Homo sapiens: one gene and its partner. The protein of the gene in region 1 purifies or fractionates together with the protein of each later gene. This does not show direct contact. Each region holds a gene or a part of one and is shown on either strand. Other genes may lie near its edges. The genes, in order: PASD1 and BMAL1.

Region 1 (4,314 bases):
GGCAACTCCTCAAACTGATCCCTCCTCTTTCAAAGGTCACAAGGATAGCCACCCTCACCTGGTCACCTCCTGCTTCGGAAAATGCTAGGCATTTTTGCTCCTCCATCATTTTGTTAGTATGTGTGTCTCCCTCTGCCTTCTCCTTCCAGAGTTATTAATCTCATAACTTAAAACCCAATCTAAATCCTCCTCTTTGGGGAAGATGGGCTGAGGCCCTAACCCAGGGTAAATTGATCACTCCCTTCTCTTTGAAGTCCAGTGTCTGGGTTTCTTATTCACATATTATAGCTCAAAGCAAATAATGGGATATAATAATTTGTTTGCACGTTTCTCTGCTCCACTAGCCTATGGACTCCCTAAAAGCTGCATCTTTATTCTCAGTTGCTTTGCCCTGTATCTTAGCTCAAAACGTGCCTCTAACAGAACTTCTGAATATGTGTTGAATGAAATGTTGAAACCAAAACCAGGAGAGTTAAACTACACTTTTATCACAAATTTTCGTTTTACTACCAACAACCAAATGCTCTCCCCATAATCCTAATTACCTTATCAACCCTATCAACTTTCAGTTAAGAGTAGGAGGATTTCTAGTCTAATTCTTATTACCCAAGAAACTGGGTATCTGTGAATTACTTTGCAAAGAAATCTGCCCATAAAGGCCAGCCATTAGAAAGCCACTTCTGGCTGGGCGCGGTGGCTCATGCCTGCAATCCCAGCACTTTGGGAGGCGAAGGCGGGCGGATCACCAGGTCAGGAGATCGAGACCATCCTGGCTAACATGGTGAAACCCCGTCTCTACTAAAAATACAAAAAAATTAGCCGGGCATGGTAGCGGGCGCCTATAGTCCCAGCTACTTGGCAGGCTGAGGCAGGAGAATGGCGTGAACCTGGCAGGTGGAGCTTGCAGTGAGCCGAGATCACGCCACTGCACTCCAGCCTGGTTGAGAGCGAGACTCCGTCTCAAAAAAAAAAAAAAAAAAAGTAAGGAAAAAGAAAAAAGAAAGCCACTTCCCACTGGCTCCTGACTTGCTGGGAAAAGAAAAGGAGGAACAGCCCTCACGCCTGTTCTTTGCTGATGGAAGAAAGGTCCAGTTCCCGCCCCCACATCCTCCCTCCATCACTGCCAACTCTCCTAAGGAAGTGCTAGGCTAATCTCAAAGACAGATGTCTCTCTAAGTAAGTACTGACAGATTGGAGGGCATCTACTGGCTACATTGGCCTGAATACTTTCAAAGTCATGAGTCCAATGCTTTCTGCCCATTCTCTTTAGTTTGGTGGAAAGGATTTTCTTTTGCTGCCTGAGTGTCTTTACCCCTCAGTACTCTCTGTTCTAGAACTGGCAGAGAAATAAGCACAACAAATCTACTTTAGATACAGCTTAACTTACTGAAAGAACTAAGGTTAGAGAAAAGCACAGCCAGTCAGTAGGGATACCTCAAAAAAACCAGGATGCCTGATTCTGTTCCTGGATCTCTTTTGGAGCATGACTTTGCCACCTGCCTTTCCTGGCATATTGTGTGGTGTATGGCATGCATATTACATAATCCAGGGTAGATTAATTTACATTCTTGATTTTATACATTGGAAAGTTATGTTCCCTTAAGATGGATGAGTAACTGATAAATTATTGTCTTATGAGTTGTAATTTTTGAAGGAAGTTTTGATTGAAAATACAGGGTCTTGCTCTGTTGTTCAGGCTGGGGTGCCGTGGTTCATTCATGACTCACTGCAACCTCGAACTCCCAGGCTCAAGCGATCCCTCCCACCTCAGCCTCCTGACTAGTTGGGCACCACACGCCCAGCTAATTTTTTTTTTTTTTTTAATTTTTGTAGAGAACAGGTCTCGCTAAGTCCGCCCTAGCTGGTCTCAAACTCAGCCGTAACCAGTAGCTGAGACTAAGATGCCTGCCACCGCACCGACGTTCGCCTCCATTATCGGTCTTCAGATACATGGCTGCTGGCACTTTCACGCTAATCTGACTCCATTTTGAAAAAACACATTTTCTAAGGTAGCCACAACTTCTGTGCTCTCCGTGTAAGTGTGCCCAAATACACATCCTGACATAAACTCCTCATCATTTGAAATCCAAAAAAGCAAAAAACAAACCCAAAGGACAACAAAAACTTCAAGCAGATCCTTTGAAAAGCCGCTACTGCCCTGAAAATTCTGAAGTCTGAGATTTCACGTGTACAAACTGCTCAATCTGCTGAAAACCAGGCAAACCTCTCGATATACGCGCCCACCCCAGCACACCGTCCCCGACTGTGGTAATGGAGACGCGCCCCAGACCTGCCGGACAGAGCCTGGCGTTCTCACCCGAACCGCCCGCTCAGACCGGCCTATTCGCGACACCGCAAGCTTTCCATTCTTCCCAACTCTGCTTCAATTTCTCGAAATGTCCAAAGAAAAATCAATGGGTGCCTCCTATGGTGCACCTACGATGGTGCCCAATGCAGGAGGAGGTTCAGAATGTGGGGGTCTTCCTCGTGTAACCCCCAGCTACCCGCTGCCACCCCTCTCCTTCTGCCTCATCCCAACCAACCTTCCCAGGATGACCAGGAAAACGAGGGTCCTGCAGGGAATGTCTCTGATGGAGTAGCTTGGGCTCCTCAGCCACCGAGGGACAAAGGGGCTGGCTCCCCGCCGCCACCCCAAGGCATTTTACTTTGCAGTAGCTTTCATTAACGGACTTCACTCACCCTTGTGGAACTCTTCACTGCTGGAGGCCGCAGGGACTTGGGGTACCTTGAAGCTCCTCCCTGTGGTCTCCGGTGAGAGCCCGGGAGCCTGGTGGGCGCCCGGAAAGTCTGGAAATGAGGAGCAGCTTCTAGACTCTTCAGGGAAGTGCGTGGGCCCCAGAGTGCAAAGCGCGTGGTGGGGGCGTGGCAGAGAGGGGAGGCAGGCATGGAGGCAGCGTGGCAGCGGAAGTAGGGGGGAGGAGTGGTAGCATTTTTCCCTAGACCTCGCGATGTTGGGGCCCGAGATAACTACTGTCTCTGGAACTAGGAGTGCAGATAAGCCACTTCAACGTAGCCCTTAGCTTGTCGAGTCAAAGGGTTCCACCCCAATACAGGCTCTCCACCCTCCCTGGACCCCTGAGCACTACCTAAGCAGGACCTAATGGAGCCCAGAAAATGTATGGATCCCAGAAAAGAGGGGTCTTTTTGAGTCCAATCATGGCTCTATTGTGGAACTGAGAGGTGACAGCGAGCTGGCAACCCTCGCAGCCGTCCCTCGCACTCCGCACCTCCTCGGCCTTGGCGCCCACTCTGGCCGCGCTTGAGGAGCCCTTCAGCCCACCGCTGCACTGTGGGAGCCCCTTTCTGGGCTGGCCAAGGCCAGAGCCGGTTCCCTCAGCTTGTGGGAAGGTGTGGAGGGAGAGGCACCGGTGGCAACTGGGGCTGCGTGCGGCGCTTGCGGGCCAGCGCAAGTTCCGGGTGGACGTGGGCTCAGCGGGCCTGCACTCGGAGTGGCCCGGTGGGCCCGCAAGGCCCGGGCAGTGAAGGGCTTAGCACCTGGGCCAGCAGCTGCTGTGCTCCATTTCTTGCCAGGCCTTAGCTGCCTCCCTGTGGGGCAGGGCTTGGGACCTGCAGACCGCCATGCCCGAGCCTCCACCCCCCCCGCCCCCCCCCGACCACCGACACCCCCCGCCCCCCCGCCCCCCCCGCCCCCCGCCCCCCCGACCCCCGACCCCCCGCCCCCCGCCCCCCCACCCCCCGCCCCCCCCGCTGCCCCCTCACCCCAGCCCCACTCCCCGCCCCCCCGCCTGCTCCCCCTGCCCCGGCCGTCGGCTCCTGTGCGCAGGAGCCTTGCGGAGGAGTGCCGCTTCCTGCTCCAGGGTGCCCAGTCCCATCGACTGCCCAAGGGCTGAGGAGTGCAGGCGCACTGGGCGGAACTGGCAGGCAGCTCCACCTGCGGCCCCCTGTGGGATCCACTGGGTGAAGCCAGCTGGGCTCCTGAGTCTGGTGGGGACTTGGAGAATCTTTATGTCTAGCTAAGGGATTGTAAATACACCAATCAGCACTCTGTATCTAGCTCAAGGTTTGTGAACACACCAATCAGCACCCTGTGTCTAGCTCAGGATTTGTGAATGCACCAATCGGCACTCTGTATCTAGTTAATCTGGTGGGGACTTGGAGAACCTTTATGTCTAGCTGAGATTGTAAATGCACCAATCCGTACTCTGTATCTAGCTCAAGGTTTGTAAATACCCCAATCAGCACTCTGTGTCTAGCTCAGGGATTGTAAACGCACCAATCAGCACCCTGTCAAAATGGACCAATCGGCTCTCTGTAAAATGGACCAATCAGTAG
Region 2 (3,810 bases), on another chromosome or scaffold:
ATTATAAAGAAAACTAGGGCTTGAAAGTTGTACAAGTTCACATAACTAGCACATGGCAAGGCCAAGCTTCGAACCCAGGTCTTACTTTGTAGTCTTACCCATTAATTTGTTAACTTTCAACCTTTTTTGGGGGGAGCAAAACGCTTTTTCAAATAGAAATGTTTGCAGAAGATTCCTGTATAAAAAAGAAGTATTGCTGCCCTTGTAGAAGCAGGATTTCTACTCTTACCCTCTCTCCTTAGCAACTATCCCCACGCCCATCCCACCTGGTAACACCACAGCTCTTGGTAACCTGAACAAACCTCCGAGGAGCTCAGTTTTGAAAATCCTTGCCCTGCTTTTGATGGTTTGTGCCCTAGGAGTCCTGCCTATGGAAATTCCTGATATTCTCTCTCTCTGTTTTAGGAGATGGGGAAAGGAAGCCATTGTGTCCAAAATGATGGCCTTTAAACTGTCCTAAGCTCTACTGGCATCAGGCAATATAAACAGATTTATAATTTACGATTAAGATGGGCCTAGGCTTATAAGTTCTCCAGCAAAGATGAAAACAAATGACTGGTTCCTAAACCTATTTATAGTGTAGTCTTATAGCAAGCTCTTCATGAGGGCTGGTGATTGATCCACTGCTTGGATCCAATGCTGTCACACCAATGGAACCCCCAGGCAGCAGATCCCCAAGTATTCTGCAGCTATAAAGCATGGCTTGATTTCCAAAGCACTGCTGGTGGCATTGCTGTTTCCATTGCCTGCCCTAGACACTAATATTTTCTCCCTTGAAAATTCCTGGCAGAAAATGAGAAACTTTTCTATGTGAGGTACTCAATAATCTTTCCCTCATGGGAACTCTTGAATTGCTCCCTCAATTAAATGAACTGACAGTTCCCCATTCCTTATTCTTTCTCCCTTCTTCCACTCACATGGAAGAAAGCCTCTGAGGATGTCAGCAAGCCTCCCTAGCCCTACCAGTATGCTTTGTATCCAGCCTCACACAGATGCATTTACTTCAAGGAGGAAGTAGTCCAAATTGTTTCAGCAATCGCAGTTGCAATTCCATACTCCCACCCCCAACATTTCAGATCTTGGGCAAGAGGTTCTCTAGCTTAGGCTAAGAATCATCAGTCTTACCTTCTTGCCTCCTGGAGAAGAGGCATCAGGGGGAGGCGTACTCGTGATGTTCAATGGGCTGGAGCCACAGCTAGAAGGCGATGACCCTCTTATCCTGTCAGAAAAGAGAATTACACTGCCTTTTCTTTTTTCAGTGGAGTGTATGTGCTTTGTTAAGGGGTAAAGGTGAGAAAGGGGATGAAGATCTAGATTAGGGTTTGGCAAGCTTTTTCTGTAAGGGGCCAGATAGTAGGCTCTCTAGGCCATATGGTGTCTTGTCACAAATGCTCAACTCTGCCTCTGCAGCTTGAAAGCAGCCACAGATACGAATCGGTGTGGCTGTGTTCCAATAAAACTTTATTTACAAAAACAGATGACAAGCTGGATTTGTTCTACAGGCACCTGATCTAGAATGCAGTCCCTAGAGTCAAGCATCTCACTGACAAAGCCCTTGGATTGGAGTTTGCATTCAGTTGGTGAATTTCAAGTAAGTGGCCAGTTTTATTTCCTCACAGAATCCAGGTGAATTGGAGGAGAACTTCTAAGATCAACCTCCATCTTTGATCCACAGAAAACAATTTGTCCCCTTCTCCACAAACACTGTTTAGCTAGTGAATACTCTTAGGACATGGACGGCACCAGGGTCTAAAAGGTAGCCTAGTAGTAGTGACAGGAAAAGCAGCCTTCGAAGGCAGTGGTTGATGAAAAATGGGTCCAGGCCTTTCTTATCTAGCATATCTCTCAGAAGATTTATAGAAGGGAAGACTTAGAACTGTAAATCCACCTAAATACTTGTCAGGCTGAAGGACCTCAGGAAAGAATCCATCACTTGGCATTGCAGCTACAGTTTAGGGAGAGTGTGATGGCAGTTGTGTAACCACAGGACTCTCAGCTCCTACATGGATGAATGTAGCTTTTGGGTGACCCAGAGACCACTCCTCCACCACCCAGAAGTCTTTTGGTTCTTGTACTGCCTAGTTCTCTAGATTTATGAGTGAACAAGTTTTCTTTCTGGATTAGAAGCTTCTTAACGGCAGTTTACAACTACATATCATGTATTCTCAGCATGCACAAACGGCTGCTAATTGCTTACGGAAAAATTGCTGAGTGTCCCCCACCTTTCTCTACTTATGTCTATGAAACCACTATTTTCCCAGGTTTCTCATCTTGGAATTGCTGTTTCATCATTCCTGATTTCATCTTCAAACGCTAGACCTTAGATGATTGATTTCTCTTTTGGCAGTGTCATCTCTGTAGGATAAGGCCTCATTCCTGAGTTGTCAAACATGCCCACCTTCATCTCTCCCTATTCCAATGCAACTTCCACAAAGCGTAACACAAGACTTTGGATGCTTGTTCAGCATCCTACAACAAATGGGGTCTTACAGGTTTCTTCCAAACTGCACAGTATCATTTCTTGTGTTTCTTAATCGCCTATCATAGCTCTGTGTCTCCTTCCTACACAAAGCCTGCCCAGTTAGGTAGCTTGTTTCTTGACCCTGAATTTGCCACTCACATGCCCACTCAAGAATAGCCCTGGCTTTTCTAGAGGGAACATCCACTCTTATTGCAAACCCTGGCTAAGGCCAAGTTCAAATCTTTCCTCTTTTGCTTGCTTTGGCCCATGCACCCTCCCTTTTTCCTGTTATCATAAAGAAAATAGACTTATAAAAGATTTTAAAATTCTTGAGGTCAAGGACTGTTTGATACTGTTCTTGGATGGTCTCAAGCAAAATACAGGGTATGCAAATGCAAAGTATAGGGTTTGAACCTGATTACACTGCACACTACCCTCATGTCTCCTTCCTGATGCAGAAGTCACACCCACTAATCCTGTGGGGTTGGAAAAGAGCTGTGTTACCTATAGGGGGATAACAGCCCCTTTATGGCCAATTGGAAAACAGGCCAGCCTCTAATTCTCCTGAGAGAATCCAGCGGCAGCAGTGTTTTCTTCCTTTTCTTATGTTACATTAAGTTTCGTTCTGAAGAATCTGGTTACCACCTTCTCTATTCCCCAAATTTGGACAGACTTATGATAACTGCTTCCCTCTCGACTGCTCTTAAAGACAGATTTAATTAATTTTTAAGCACTCACTATATGTCAGGCTGTGTTCCTGGAACTTTCCTGAGTGCCCTCACAATCCTAACACAATTCTTGGGAAATAGTGCTTTCTTTTTATGGTTTAAATCAACAGAGAGCAAGAGGTTAAGTAAGTCTCAGCATAGCCAGGTAGAGAGACAGGCCCAGGACTCAGACCCAGGTGGACTGCTTCTAAGCTCCTTCTCTTTCATATGGAAAGGAAGTCTCTCCCAAGACAGCTAGTAATAACTAGCTGATCTGCTTGGTTTCTAGTACTAATCCTGGGCAGCTCTTTGATTGAAAAAAAGTGAATGTTTTGTTAAGGTCCAGATCACTCTGATAGTTCACAGCTCTACTCCTGCATTCCTGTAAAGTAAAGGTACATCTATCCGCACTGAGAAGCTCCTTGAGCCATAAGAAAGTTAAGTCTTCTCAAGAATTCTCTTTAGCGCTGGGCTATTTTGGTTTAGCTTCTTTATTTAAGGCAGGATTTCTTAATCTAGGCACTACTAACATTTTGGATTGGATAATTCTTTGTTGGGTGGGGAGGAGGGAACTGTCCTGTTTACTGTAGGATGTTTAACAAGCAGCATCCCTGGTCTCTATCCACAGGATGTTTAAGTAGC

Evidence for each region.
Region 2: the proteins of PASD1 (region 1) and BMAL1 purify together in Homo sapiens (co-immunoprecipitation; one study listed by IntAct). This does not show direct contact.

Annotation. Positions count from the first base shown.
Region 1 is NC_000023.11:151,562,226-151,566,539, reverse strand, and holds the start of PASD1 (circadian clock protein PASD1), read right to left. Parts: upstream 2,866-4,314; 5' UTR 2,701-2,865; intron 1-2,700. UniProt on the Homo sapiens protein: Functions as a suppressor of the biological clock that drives the daily circadian rhythms of cells throughout the body. Acts as a nuclear repressor of the CLOCK-BMAL1 heterodimer-mediated transcriptional activation of the core clock components.
Region 2 is NC_000011.10:13,378,570-13,382,379, reverse strand, and holds part of BMAL1 (basic helix-loop-helix ARNT-like protein 1), read right to left. Parts: intron 1,220-3,810; coding exon 1,126-1,219; intron 1-1,125. UniProt on the Homo sapiens protein: Transcriptional activator which forms a core component of the circadian clock.